Homo sapiens: one gene and its partners. The protein of the gene in region 4 interacts with the protein of the main gene of each other region in a pairwise test. Each region holds a gene or a part of one and is shown on either strand. Other genes may lie near its edges.

What was found.
Region 1: the proteins of DEXI (region 4) and SETDB1 interact in binary tests that used the Homo sapiens proteins (3 or more experiments, as listed by UniProt).
Region 2: the proteins of DEXI (region 4) and PRKCA interact in binary tests that used the Homo sapiens proteins (3 or more experiments, as listed by UniProt).
Region 3: the proteins of DEXI (region 4) and UBQLN1 interact in binary tests that used the Homo sapiens proteins (3 or more experiments, as listed by UniProt).

Annotation. Positions count from the first base shown.
Region 1 is NC_000001.11:150,953,772-150,957,420, forward strand, and holds part of SETDB1 (histone-lysine N-methyltransferase SETDB1), read left to right. Parts: intron 1-3,649. UniProt on the Homo sapiens protein: Histone methyltransferase that specifically trimethylates 'Lys-9' of histone H3. H3 'Lys-9' trimethylation represents a specific tag for epigenetic transcriptional repression by recruiting HP1 (CBX1, CBX3 and/or CBX5) proteins to methylated histones.
Region 2 is NC_000017.11:66,806,022-66,809,670, forward strand, and holds part of PRKCA (protein kinase C alpha type), read left to right. Parts: 3' UTR 1-3,649. UniProt on the Homo sapiens protein: Calcium-activated, phospholipid- and diacylglycerol (DAG)-dependent serine/threonine-protein kinase that is involved in positive and negative regulation of cell proliferation, apoptosis, differentiation, migration and adhesion, tumorigenesis, cardiac hypertrophy, angiogenesis, platelet function and inflammation, by directly phosphorylating targets such as RAF1, BCL2, CSPG4, TNNT2/CTNT, or activating signaling cascade involving MAPK1/3 (ERK1/2) and RAP1GAP.
Region 3 is NC_000009.12:83,697,901-83,701,549, reverse strand, and holds part of UBQLN1 (ubiquilin-1), read left to right. Parts: intron 1-3,649. UniProt on the Homo sapiens protein: Plays an important role in the regulation of different protein degradation mechanisms and pathways including ubiquitin-proteasome system (UPS), autophagy and endoplasmic reticulum-associated protein degradation (ERAD) pathway.
Region 4 is NC_000016.10:10,928,297-10,930,609, reverse strand, and holds the end of DEXI (dexamethasone-induced protein), read left to right. Parts: exon of another isoform or gene 1-1,050; 3' UTR 1,051-1,719; downstream 1,720-2,313.

The sequences.
Region 1 (3,649 bases), on a different chromosome or scaffold from region 4:
TAAGCTGAGATTGCACCACTGCACTCCAGTCTGGACAACACAACAAGACTCCGTCTCAAAAAAAATGATTTAAAAATTAAAAAAAAAATTTTTTTTTTTTTTAGATGGAGTCTTGCTCTGTCGCCCAGGCTGGAGTGCAGTGGCGTGATCTCAGCTCACTGCAAGCTCCGCCTTCCGGGTTCACGCCATTCTCCTGCCTCAGCCTCCCGAGAAGCTGGGACTACAGTCGCCCACCACCACGCCTGACTACTTTTTTGTATTTTTAGTAGAGACAGGGTTTCACCATGTTAGCCAGGATGGTCTCTATCTCCTGACCTCATGATCCGTCTGCCTCAGCCTCCCAAAGTGCTGGGATTACAGGCGTGAGCCACCGCGCCCAGCCTAAATTATTTTTTAAAAAATTAGCCGGGCATGGTAGATGCATGCCTGTAGTCCCAGCTACTTGAGAGGCAGAGGCAGAAAGATCACTTGAGCCCAGTAGTTCAAGGCTGCAGTGAGCTATGATCACACCACTACACTCTAGCCTGGGGTGACAGAGCATGACTCTTATCTCTAAAACAAGAGGAGGACAACAAAAGAGTGGGGTATAGCATGGTAAACTGGTATATATAAACACGTGAACTAATAAACCTAGTGATCAGAATACATAATTAACAGAACAGAGGAGAAAAGCATCAGTGAAATAATTCAGAAAGTGTCCCATAATTGAAGGATCTTTGTTTCTGAATTGAAAGGGCCAGTTAGGTCCCAACATAATGAAGGATAAAGGTAGGTTCCCATTAAGAGACATTATCATAAAATGTCAGAACACTGAGGGAAAAAAAAATCCTAAAAGCTTCTAGAGAAGAGAAATAGAACACGTTAAAAAATAGACTTGAAATGACTTCAGCCTTCCCTGAAAGTAGCACTAGAAGCTAGATAGCAATTGGAGAATCTGTTCAGAATTCTAAGGGAAAATTATTTCCAACCTGGAATTTTAAACTCGGGCAAACTATCAATTTGGTGTTACAGTAGGCTAAATACATTTTTTTAGACATGCAGTACCTCAGAGTTTTTCATCATTCCCCTTCTCAGAAAGTTTCTGGAAATATTTGCAAAAATGAGAGGGAAAGGCAGGAAAGGGGAAGACAGGTGACAGTGCAGTGAAAGAGGCTTCCAGGCTGACAGCTGTGTACTAGGCATAGAGAAGAGCCACTGCAGGAGCAGGTCAGATGCTGTAGGAGCGACTTCTTCAGGAAAATTGGTTTAACAGAAAACCTGAGGTGCCTGAATACATTCAGAGGAGATCGAGACTACTGGGGAGATCATAGGATGAATTTGTACTGATAACATTGAAAAACTAAACAAAGGAATAGACAGTTGTTTAGTTGCATTGCTGTATCATGTATGTTTTAATTATTAACAAAATTTTGAATCTAACAATAGCGTTTAGATTTGATAATGCTGGGTGGTACATGAGTGTTCATATCTTTTTTACACGTTTGAAATGTTTCATAAAAATATTTTCAAATAATCACAAATAATATATCACTCCCCTGCTTAACTCTATAATATAGTCCCTCTGCTGTTTGGATTTTATTCTGACTCTTAACCTTAGGTTATATATTTGGCCCTTTCCTGTCTCCCTCCAAAGTCATTCCAACCACACTGATATTTTTCAGTTCCTGGATCCAGTTCAACCAGTGTTTTCCAGCCTGCCTCTGGAGACTTGCACATGCTGTGCCTTCTTCTTGGCATCCTTCCACTTTTCTTTGTGTGGCTATCTTCTTTAACCTTGAGCTTTCAGCTGTAAAGTCACCTCCTCAGAGAGACCTTCCCTGACCACTTTAAAACTAGGTCATTTTACTCCCTTAATTCTCTCATTGAGCACCATGTTTGTGTTCTTTATAGCATTTATGACAACTTTTGTTGACTTGTTTTTCTTTTTTTCTATTATATAAGCTCCTTCATGAGGGCAAGGATCTTATCTGTCTCTTTGTCTTGCTAACCATTGTATCACCAGTTTACCCAATGCCTGGCACATAGTAATCACTTAGGCCAGGTGCAGTGGCTGATGCCTGTAATCCCAGCACTTTGGGAGGCCAAGGCGGGCAGATCACTTGAGGTCAGGAGTTCGAGACCAGCCTAGCCAACATGGTGAAACCCTGTCTCTACTAATAAAGTATAAAAAATTAGCCAGGCGTGGTGGCACATGCCTGTAGTGCTAGCTACTCAGGAGGCTGAGATGGGAGAATTGGTTGAACCCAGGAGGCAGAGGTTGCAGTGAGCCGAGATTGCACCATTGCACTCCAGCCTGGGCGACAGAAGGAGACTTCGTCTCAAAAAAAAAAAAAAAGCCAAGCGCAGTGGCTCACGCCTGTAATCCCAGCACTTTGGGAGGCCGAGACAGGTGGATTACGAGGTCAGGAATTCAAGATCAGCCTGGCCAAGATGTTGAAACCCCGTCTCTACTAAAAATACAAAAATTAGCCATGTGCGGTGGCAGGCGCCTGTAATCCCAGCTACTCCAGAGGCTGAGGCAGGAGAATCACTTGAACCCGCGAGGTGGAGGTTGCAGTGAGCCAAGATCCCACCACTGCACTCCGGCCTAGGCAATAGAGTGAGACTCCGCCTCAAAAAAAAAAAAAAAAGTAACCACTTAAATTTTGTGGAATGAATGAATGATAGTATAGCTACTGTAAAGGTTTCATGTGGTAATAATGACACCTGAGTTCAAATTCCAGCCCTGCCCCTACTGAGCTGATCTTTTTTGATCAGCTGTAAACAGAGGATATTAACATAAACACCCCCATGTCCCCAGTGGGGTTTTAAGGGACCTAACAAAGTTGTTTCTTGATCTGGTGCAGGTTACATGGTATGCTGAGTTTGTAAAATTCATTGATCTGTATAGACTTACGTGTACTTTCCTCTGTGTATATTACGTTTCAATAATCTTTTATTTCCCCCTACCCACTAGACCACCAGGGAAATAATCTCTTTTTTTTTTTTGCTATGGAGTCTTGCTCCCAAAGTGCTGGGATTACCGACATGGGAAATAATCTTTTTTAAAGTTAGAAAAAAAAGCTAGACATGGTGGCTCACACCTGTAATCCCAGCACTTTGGGAGGCCGTGGTGGGGGGATGGCTTGAGTTCAGTAGTTCCAGACTTGCCTGGGCAATGTGATGAGACCTTGTCTCTACAAAAAAAGTTTTAAAAATTAGCTGGGCATGTGGCATGCAGCTGTGGTCCCAGCTACTTAGGAGACTGAGGCAGGAGGATCACTTGAGCCCAGGAGGTCAAGGCTGCAGTGAGCTGTGTTTGTGCCGCTGCACTATGGTCTGGGTGACAGAGCAAGACCATGACTCAAAAAAAAAAAAAATGGGAGGTCGAAGCAGGTGGATCACCTGAGGTCAGGAGTTCAAGACCAGCCTGGCCAACATGGTAAAACCCTGTCTCCAATACAAAAATTAGCAGGGTATGATGGCATGCACCTATAATCCCAGCTACTTGGGAGGCTGAGGCAGGAGAATCGCTTGAACCCAGGAAGCGGAGGTTGGGCGACAAAGCGAGACTGTGTCTCAAAAAGAAAAAACACCACCTGTATTAGGGCAGCTTTAAGGATAGAATATGTATATATAAGGCATTCACACAATGCCAAACACAAAAGTA
Region 2 (3,649 bases), on a different chromosome or scaffold from region 4:
ACTTTCTTCCAGCCATTGTGGCATTGGCCTTTCCAGTCTTGGGAGGAGCGCGCTGCTTTGGTGAGACACCCCCATGCAAGGTCCTCAGAGTAGCCGGGTTCTACCACAAACAGAAACAGAATGAAAGTAGCTGTCAGTCCTTGTAGAGAGCCGCTCTGTTTCCTCCCAGAAGCATCTCCCAGCTAAGCTCGCATTATTTTTCTCCTCTGGCTGTTTGCCTGAAGTTCACAGAACACACAACCATGAAAGGCTTTTTGAGGTGAGAGGCCCAGGTGGTCCTGGCAACCCTGAGTAGAAGGAGAGACGGGGTAGGGAACGGGCCCGGCCAGAAAAGAACCATTTCTTCTGCCATCTTTTATGCACCATAGACATCGAGACTCCAGGGGGTCCTGGCTCCCCTGTCCCTGCAGCCCTGCAGGTCAGTGCATGATCTGGGTTCGTGTCCTGACCAGGTGCTCCTCCTTTGATCCGAGGGGAAAGGGACTGGTTTATAGAAAGAGCCTAGGAGACAAAAGGGCCAGTCCCCCTGCCCAGAATGGAGCAGCAGCAGGACAGACCCCCACGAGGCCCCCCAGAGAGGAGGAAGATCCCACGGAGGAACACATGAGGTTAGGGACCCTTGTTCAGCACCCCAAACAGCCTGCCTGTTTAAAGCAGGCAGCAGGCTTAGGCCTTCCCTGCAACCCCAACACCCACAAGTTTGTTTCTCTAGGAAACACATTCACTGTCTCAGCTGGCTGTTACTCTCTCAGACCATATGGCAAAGTTTTCCAAGAAAATGCCCCGACAGGGGTGCCCAGCACACTGCCTGAGGGACAACAGACATCAGAACAAACCCCCAGAGAGAAACAGTCAAAATCAGGGCCCGGTGCAGTGTTGTCATGTGGAACCTGCTTTATCCATTGCTGAGTGTTGAATGTGGGTAATGGTTAGGGCTTTCCAGATCTCAGCAGCCAAAGACAGTTATTGTTGGAAGACTGTCATGTAGATAACCATGAGCAATGGCTCGCCTCAGAATCAGTTCATAAAATTCTATGGTACTGGCCCCTTCGTGGGTATTGTGTGAAATGAGATGGTGGCGAGGGGTGCGCTGTGGAACTGCCGCAGCCACGCAGGAGGTCCCTGGGGGATGCTTTGGGAAGTCCTTGCCCCTGAGCACTGCCTGATTGCCAGGGCCTGTGGAGGTCTAGGCCGCCTGGCAGAATCTAGCACCGTCCGAATCCCCGCAGGACCCATGGAGCTATGACCACACCAGGCCATTCAAATGGCTCTGCATTATCTTCCCTTGGAAGGTGGCCACTCCTCGGTGGCAGGGCCTTTCCCTGAGGCTGCAGGCCGTGGGCTGGCAGCCCGTCTCTTGGCATTTCAATTGAAGGTCACCAGGTGCTGGGTTTGAAAGGAAGTCACTGGAGTGCTGCCAGGGGCCGCCCTCCAAGGTTAATGAGAGGCCCACATCCAGGCAAGAACTAATTCAAAAGGCAGATCAGAAACCACAGGAGTCAAAATTATTGCTCCGGCAGTGCTTCCCTTCCTTTCATCCACTGGCCTCGTGTGGTCCATGCAGGGCCACTGTCTGCCCTTTCTGATGCCACGTATTAGGCTTTCTTACTCAGAATTTTGATAGAAAACCATGGGGCCAAGAGCTCTGGAAGCCTGGCCGGAAAGACCAAGGTTCATGCAGCCCAACAAATGATTGTTGAGCACCTCTCGGAGCCAAAGTCCTTAGGCGAGTGTGGTGACTTCCTGGAAGGAGGATGCAGACTTCCAGAGAGCCCCCCCAACGGACGTGCTGAGAAGGGAGAGGGAGGCGGGGGCTGTAGTCAGGAAGGAGCCAGAGAAGAACAGGGTTTGGGTGCATCCAGAAATATGCCTGCAGTAGGAGGGAGAGGAAGGGGTGCCACCGTCAACGGCTTCCCATCGGAGGTGGTTGGTGCAGATGGAAGTTTCTGTCTGCTGGCCCTCAAGAGAGTGTTTTGCCAGGGACACAGTCTGTTCCTCCTCAGAAAACACCCCCCAAATGCTAACAACATCCCCACCAGCTGCTAGAAGCCCCTTTCCCCTCCCCACCTTGAAGTAGCTCATAGTTCTCTGGGCAGAGCCAGACCATCCAGTGTACCCCAGAGGCCAGTAGGTTCCTGCCCATTTTCCTCTCTGGCTTCCTGCCAAGAATTATGGCAGCTGAGGATGAATGGAGAAGTAAAAACAACTAACACCGCACAACTAACAACTAACACCGCAGTTCCCACCTGGGTTCCACTTAGCAGGAGACATTTCGGAGGGTTTTTTTTGTTTTTGTTCCTGTTTTTTTTTTTTTTGCTGGAATTTGTTTTCTCAGTACTGAAAAGAGAAAAAGTGACAATCTTGTATTTTTAAAAGCCTCGGAAAGGTGATACCATCTGACAGTCATTTTCTCACGTTGGTCTTCTAAAGTCACCTATTTCTTGTGTGTGCACATCACACCATTTCCTGTTTCTTTATAACCCGACAAGGGTAGGAGTGCCTGTTTCCCCTGCTGGGCACACCAGACAATCGTAATCACAAAACAGACACTGAGCCAGGGGCCCAAAGGGTGTGATCATGAGAGTTACCGGGACAGCAGTAGGCATGACAGTCACCAGGAAGGACAAGGGTGCTCTGTTGTTAGTGGCCACACACCAATTTGACAAGGAGTGTTGCGAAATTTTTATTTATTTATTTATTTATTTTGAGATGGAGTTTCACTCTTGTTGCCCAGGCTGGAGTGCGGTGGTACAATCTCGGCTCACTGCAACCTCCACCTCCCAGGTTCAAGCGATTCTCCTGCCTCAGCCTCCCAAGTACCTGGGACTACAGGTGCGTGCCACCACACCCAGCTAAATTTTGTGTTTTTAGTAGAGATGGGGTTTCACCATGTTGGCCAGGATGGTCTTGAACCCCTGACCTCATGATCTGCCTGCCTCGGCCTCCCAAAGTGCTGGGATTACAGGCATGAGCCACCACGCCCAGCCAAAATATTTTTTTAAAGTCATTTTCCTTAAGCTGCTTGGGCTACATGTGAAATACACTGGACGGTCAACATTCCTGTCTCCTCCCATTTGGGCTGATGCAGCAGATCCAGGGAATGTTACCTGTTTCTGCTGCTAGAAGATCCAGGAAATTGGGAAGGTTACCTGACGCACACATGGATGAAGGCCATCATCTAGAAATGGGGTCAACCACAATTGTGTTAATTCCGTAGTGTCAGGGATTCTTCGGGAAGGTCAACAGTATGAAGGATTCTGACCCCTGTGCCTCCCATTTATGTGATCAGGTGACAGTTAATAACCGTGGAGGTCACACTCAGCCATCCAACAGCCTTACAGTGACCCTACACAAAAGCCCCCAAATTCCAAAGACTTTTTCTTAACCTAAAGGAAGAAATTATTTGTTAATTCCAGTAGAGCAACTGAATATACTGGGCTATTTGTACTTTTTTATAGAGAACTTTAATAATAATTCTTTAAAAATGAGTTTTTAGAACAAAGCAACTGACGATTTCCTAAGATTCCAATGCCCTGGAGCTTGTAGGAGGACTTAGCCTGGGTCAGCTGGAGCACCCCCGACCTGATCTCCCACTGCCAGATTTTCCCATGCTCCTAGGGTATGGAGTCCACGTGGGAATGACTGCAAG
Region 3 (3,649 bases), on a different chromosome or scaffold from region 4:
GCCTGCTAGACAAATTTGCTTTTTGTTATCTGAGCAGTAGTTCTCACTGTGGTTTGGGGAGTCCCCATACCCTGTTAAGGGTACCATGAGATGAAACTATTTTCATAGTAATTCTGAGATGTTATTTTTATTTTTCAGTCTAATTTTCTCAAAACTGGGCAGTGCACTTGGCTAGAGTCTTTAAGGTGTGGGATATGACAACAGATGTGAAAATCCAGCTGTCTTCTATTACAAGACTAAAGTGATTTCCAAAAATTTAAAATAATGCCACTCTTATCACTGAGAAAATAGTTATTTTTCATAAGGATGTTATTTTTATTAATATATAATGTATTATTTTTAAATGAATTTATTTTTAAAGGTTATTCAGTTTTAATTTGTAATATTATAAATATCAACAGCTATAACCTAAACAAGCAAAACTCTTTGGAGTTCTGAAGTTGTAAAATGGTGTCCTGAGAGCAAAAATTTCTGTGGTGGCGTATTTTATAGATTACGTACTTAAAATATCGGGTAGTGGCTCCAATAAGTTGCCATTACCTCTTGCCTAGAAACTGCAGTAGCCTACTGGTCAGTTGCCTGACTTCTATAACTCTCCCACCAGCCATTCCAAGAGTGATCTCTGAAAAACGTTAATCAGAGCATGCCACCCTCTGTGTAAAGCTAATGGCTCCCTGTTGGTCTTAGAATATATAATGGAGTAGCGAGGCCCTGTGTAATACGGTTCCATGCCCTCTCCATTTTTTGCAGATGCCTTCTTTCTTTGCTTGCTTGGCTGACTACATTGACCTTCTAGTTCCCTGACCTGTTAATACTTTTTTTCCTGCCTGAGGACTTCTGTACAGTTTGTTCTTGCTACCTAGAATGCAAGAACACTCTTTGCCCATTCCTTTTCCATCTTTAAATCTTAATGCAAAGGTCAGTTTCTCCAGGTAGTATCTATTTCTGATTGTCCAGACTGGATTGGGATCCCCTGTTGGATTTCTCACAGTAGCCTGTTTTTGATAAGAATTCATCACAACTAAAAATTGTATATTTATGTGATTCCTTCTCTTTAGAGAGGGGCTGTGATTGTTCACCATTGTGTTACCAGAGCCTAGGGCTCAATAAATTATTTACAGATGAATCTAGTCCATTATGTACAATAATACATATTCAGTAATAACTACTTATTGTTGAACCTTTACTGAGTGTAGTATGTACATAATCTGGTAGCTCCCAGTCCTTTTGTGGAAGCTTCCTCTTAAGCTGTTCCCCCCAGGTCACCACTCTCCAGGCACAACTCTTGACTGCTTCATGATGTTCACTCTTGCTTCTCTGCCTGGAACATTACTCTTCTAGAACCACCTTTCTTAGCTGGAGATTCTCATCTGAACCACAGAGCACAGAAAGTGATATGAATAGCTATCCATTTCTTTTCAAAGATGGTTCATAATGAATATAATTTTAGATGTATAGGAGAGAAGTTAATTCATTACATAGTGAGTGGTTTGTTGGTAAATGCTGGTTTATCAACCCGTTCTTCAGGAAAAACACTGATTTGTAGTGTTTGCTGGATTTCCATGATGTAAATATTCTCACTGTGGCAGATTTCAAGATACCGTTATTAAACTGGCTCACAAAATTTATGAAAATTTAAGAGCCATTGCTTATAATGGGTGCCTTAGGGCAGAGGCCAGCAAACTGGTAGTCGAAATCTATTGTGCCCATTTGCTTATGTGTTATCTATAGCTCCTTTCAGAATAGACCATGTGGCTGGTAGAGCCAAAAATATTTACTGTCTAGCCCGTAACAGAAAGTTTGCTTACCCTGGTATTAGGGCTTCCTGTTAATATATCTTGTTCATCAAAACACTTCTCATTGGAAATTTTTACCATGACTTATTTTTTATAGAAATACAATGTGAGCTGGGCTCAGTGGTTCATGCTTGTAATCCCAACACTTTGCGGGGCCAAGGTGGCAGGATTGCTTGAGCACCATGGCTCAGTGATCATGGCTCACTGCAGCCCCCACCTCCTGGAGTTCGAGACCAGCCTGTCTACAAAAAAATAAAAATTTAGCTAGGTGTGGTGGCACACACCTGTAGTCCCAGCTAGTCCAGCAAGGTTGAGCCCAGGAGTTTGGAGGTTACACTGAGCTATGATTGCACCGCAGCATTCCAGCTGTGGTGACAGAATGAGACTTGGTCTCTTAAAAACAAAAAACAGTATGAGCCACATATGTAATTTTCCTATTAGCCACTTTAATCAAAAGGAAGGACTGAAGTCAATTTTTCAATAGTGGTGACTCACACATAACAAAATTTATCATGTTAACCATTTTTAAGGGTTCACTTCAGTGACATTAAGTACATTCACATTGTTGTACAATTGTTACCACCATCCGTTTCCAGAACTCATCTTGCAAAACTGAAACCCTGGACCGTTTAAACAGTAACTCCCCATTTTCCCCATTCCCCCACCTCTAGCAACCACCATTCTTCTTTCTGTCTCTGAATTTGACTACTCTAGGTATTTCATATAAGTGGAATAAGACAGTGTTTGGCCTTTTGTGATTAACTTATTTCCCTTAGTATAACGTCCACAAGGTTCATTTATGTTGTAGCATGTGTCAGAATTTACTTTTTTTTTTTTTTTTGAGACAGGTCTCACTTTGTCACCCAGGCTGGAGTGCAGTGGCACAATCATGGCTTGCTGCAGCCTCCACCTCCTGAAGTTCAAGTGATCCTCCTGCCTTAGCCCCCCAAGTAGCTGGGACTGCAAGCTCACATCACCATGCTTGGCTACTTTGTATTTTTTTGTAGAGACAGGGTTTCACCATGTTGCCCAGGTTGGTCTCAAACTCCTGAGCTCAAGCGATCTGCCCCCTTGGTCTCCCAAAATGCTAGGATTATACAAGTGTGAGCCACCGCACCCAGCCAGAATTTACTGTGTATGACTGAATAATATTCCATTATATGTATGTACCACATTTTAAAAATCCATTGATCTGTTGCTGGTCGCTTGGGTTGCTTCCACCTTTTGGCTATTGTAATTTTAATATGCTTTATTTAACCCAGTATGTCTAAAATATTTTAAGGTGCAATTGATATAAAGACTATAAAATATCTTGCATTTTGAAATACTAAGTCTTTGAAATATATTTTGTAATTTACACTTAAGCATACCTCAGTTTGAAGTAGCCACATTTCAGGTGCTTAATAGCCATATGTAGCTAGTGACTGCTGAATTAGCACAGCTAATAAAGCTTTCAGGATGTGCTTCCACCTGCCTTTTCTCCTGTTTTCATTGCATTTCAGCCAGTTTGTATTGTCTCTTCCCCTACCCTCAAATATCACTGGCTCTTTCTTCCCCTTTTTGAACCTTTGCAAATGCTGTTAATGACAATGACATAATGGCCAATATTTATTGCAGGCATGATTTATAAGGCATGATGCATTATATTTTTTTAAAATGTCACATAACTTTATGATGAAAGCACTATTATTATCCTTTTTTTAAAAAATGAAGATGCTGGCCAGGCATGGTGGCTCATGCTGCTAATCCCGGCACTCTGGGAGGCCGAGGCGGGTGGATCACATGAGGTCAGGAGTTTGAGACCAGCCTGACCAACATGGAGAAACCCCGTCTCTACTAAAGATACAAGATTT
Region 4 (2,313 bases):
TCTCATAGCTGTGCATCTTTAGGCAGGTTACTTGGCTTCTCTGAACCTCAATTTCTTATCCTATTAAATGATAAGAACCTCAGTTTCTTATCCTATACGATGCATGGGTCTCAATGGAAACAGTTCCGCCCCCTTAGGTCGACCTTGGAAATAGGGTAGGAGGGCATTTTTAGTTGTTCCAGTGGCCAGGGGTGCTACTGGCATTTAGTGGCCTGGAGCCAGAGATGCTGCTAAATGCTCAGTGCCCAGAACAGCCACCCCACCTCCAAGAATTGTCCTACCCCAAATGTCAATAGCACCCTGTCAAACAACAATACATGTCACATGTTTAACATACAAGTTCTGCGAGATGTTCAGTGAAGTTTGCGGAAAGGATAGTGAGCTGGGAGATGAGGCTTGGAATCAGAGCAGGGCTTGAGGGGGCTGCAGAGGGGTTGGGCATGGGAACACGAGGTGCTACAGAGACACTGGCACCCGGCTAGGCACACAGAGAAGGCAGTGGGAAACGGGGACGTGCCAGGGGGCCAGGCCATGGAGATGATGCTGCATCCTGGGAGAAAGAGCCAAGTGGGGCTGCTGAGTAACTTGGCTGTGGCTATTGCCTTCCTGTAGGTTGCAAAGCATTTTTCCGGGCAAGGTGGAAGGTGTTGCCAAGCCCTGCCCACTACCCAGCGCTGGCTCAGCTGGCCCAGAGCTGCAAGTCAGCCCTCAGACCCTGGGTGACTCCTGAGCAGGCTGCACCAGCATCCCCCTCCTCCCTCCCAATAAACAGGACAGTCCTTCCTCTCCCGTGTGACATTGCACTGGTTCTCCAGCCCAGGGTCTCTGAGAAATTAGGCAAATTCATTAAAAAGAGTTTTATATTTGCAGAAAGACATTTTCAGCCTGAGTCTGGGGCTCCCAGTGGTTCCCTAAATTTGAGGGATGGAGGAAGACTTCCCTGCCCCACCCCAAGCCTCCCGAGCCTGGTGGATTGGTCCCTGTCCCCAGCCAACCTGGTGGCAGGGTGGGGCTTCCGTGCTAATAACCCCCCTTTTTCCTTCTTGTTAGACCTGCTCCCCTCAAAAGCTTCGTGCCAACAGAGAGGTTCCTGTTTGAACCCAGGAGAGTGGAAGAGAGATTGGGACTGAGTGCTGAGGTTGGGAAGGCACCTGCTCCCACAGAAGGGGGAACGCAAGAGGCATCCCAAGACCTCATCTGCCTGCAGTGTCAAATCGATGGCCTGGCCTTGGCTTCTGATTATTTGCAGCTGCGATGGATGTTTACAGGAACCCAGCCAGAGTTTGCCTCCCTGCACTTCATCCCGGAGCGCACCTGCTTCCCCCACTTCACCTTCGGAGAGGACACTTCAAACTGCGGACACACGCAAAAGCGACTCCCAGCTCCGTTTGATGTGAGTTGAGCCTTCAGGCCAGCTGGGTTTAGCCCGAGGCTGGTCTTAGATGCAGCGACTGTTTCAGGGGTGACTCAGAAGAAAAAGAAGCTGAGGAAGCTGTTGGGGGGCTGAGGGTGGGATTCTCGCTCCTTCATTTCAGGTTACTCGTTCTTCAGCAAGTTGGCAAAACAGACATCATGCTGGTGAGTGCCACGTTACTCCCCTGGCTGGAAATGCTTTTCTGAAAGTATGAGTGTTGTGCCTACTTAATTCTGATAAACCTGTCTAAGCAATACTTAGGAGGCTTACTTCTTTGGATTAAAAAAAAATGTATGCAACTCCAACCCCTGGGGCCCTGCCTTTTTTTTTAACTTTGAGATTCGGGAAAGGAGTTCTAGGCAGAACCTTGTGGCTGACAAACAGCAGAAGATCCAGTGGGGTTGAGAGAGTCTGCCCCAGTCGGGCTGGCGTGAAAGTCCCAGGCTGGCCCCCTGCCCCACTCCACAAGCCAGGGACAGCATTTGGGGTGTGGTGGGAAAAGCCTGAAGGCCAAGCTGGAAACCAGGCCTGAATCCCATAGAAGTGGGGGTGGGTATCCCCTGTGTCAGGCACATGGTAGACCTTCATTAAAGATAGGGGGGAAGGGCTTGGCATGGTGGCTCATGCCTGTAATCCCAGCACTTTGGAAGGCCGAGGCGGGCAGATCACTTGAGGTTAGGAGTTCGAGACCAGCCTGGCCACCACGGTGAAACCCCATCTCTACTAAAAATACAAAAAAATTAGCCAGGCATAGTGGCGCACACTTATAGTCCCAGCTACTCGGGAGGCTGAGGCAGGAGAATTGCTTGAAACCAGGGAGGCAGAGGTTGCAGTGAGTTGAGATCATGCCACTGCATTCCAGCCTGGGCAACAGAGCAAGAGAGGGATTAAATGAGTGG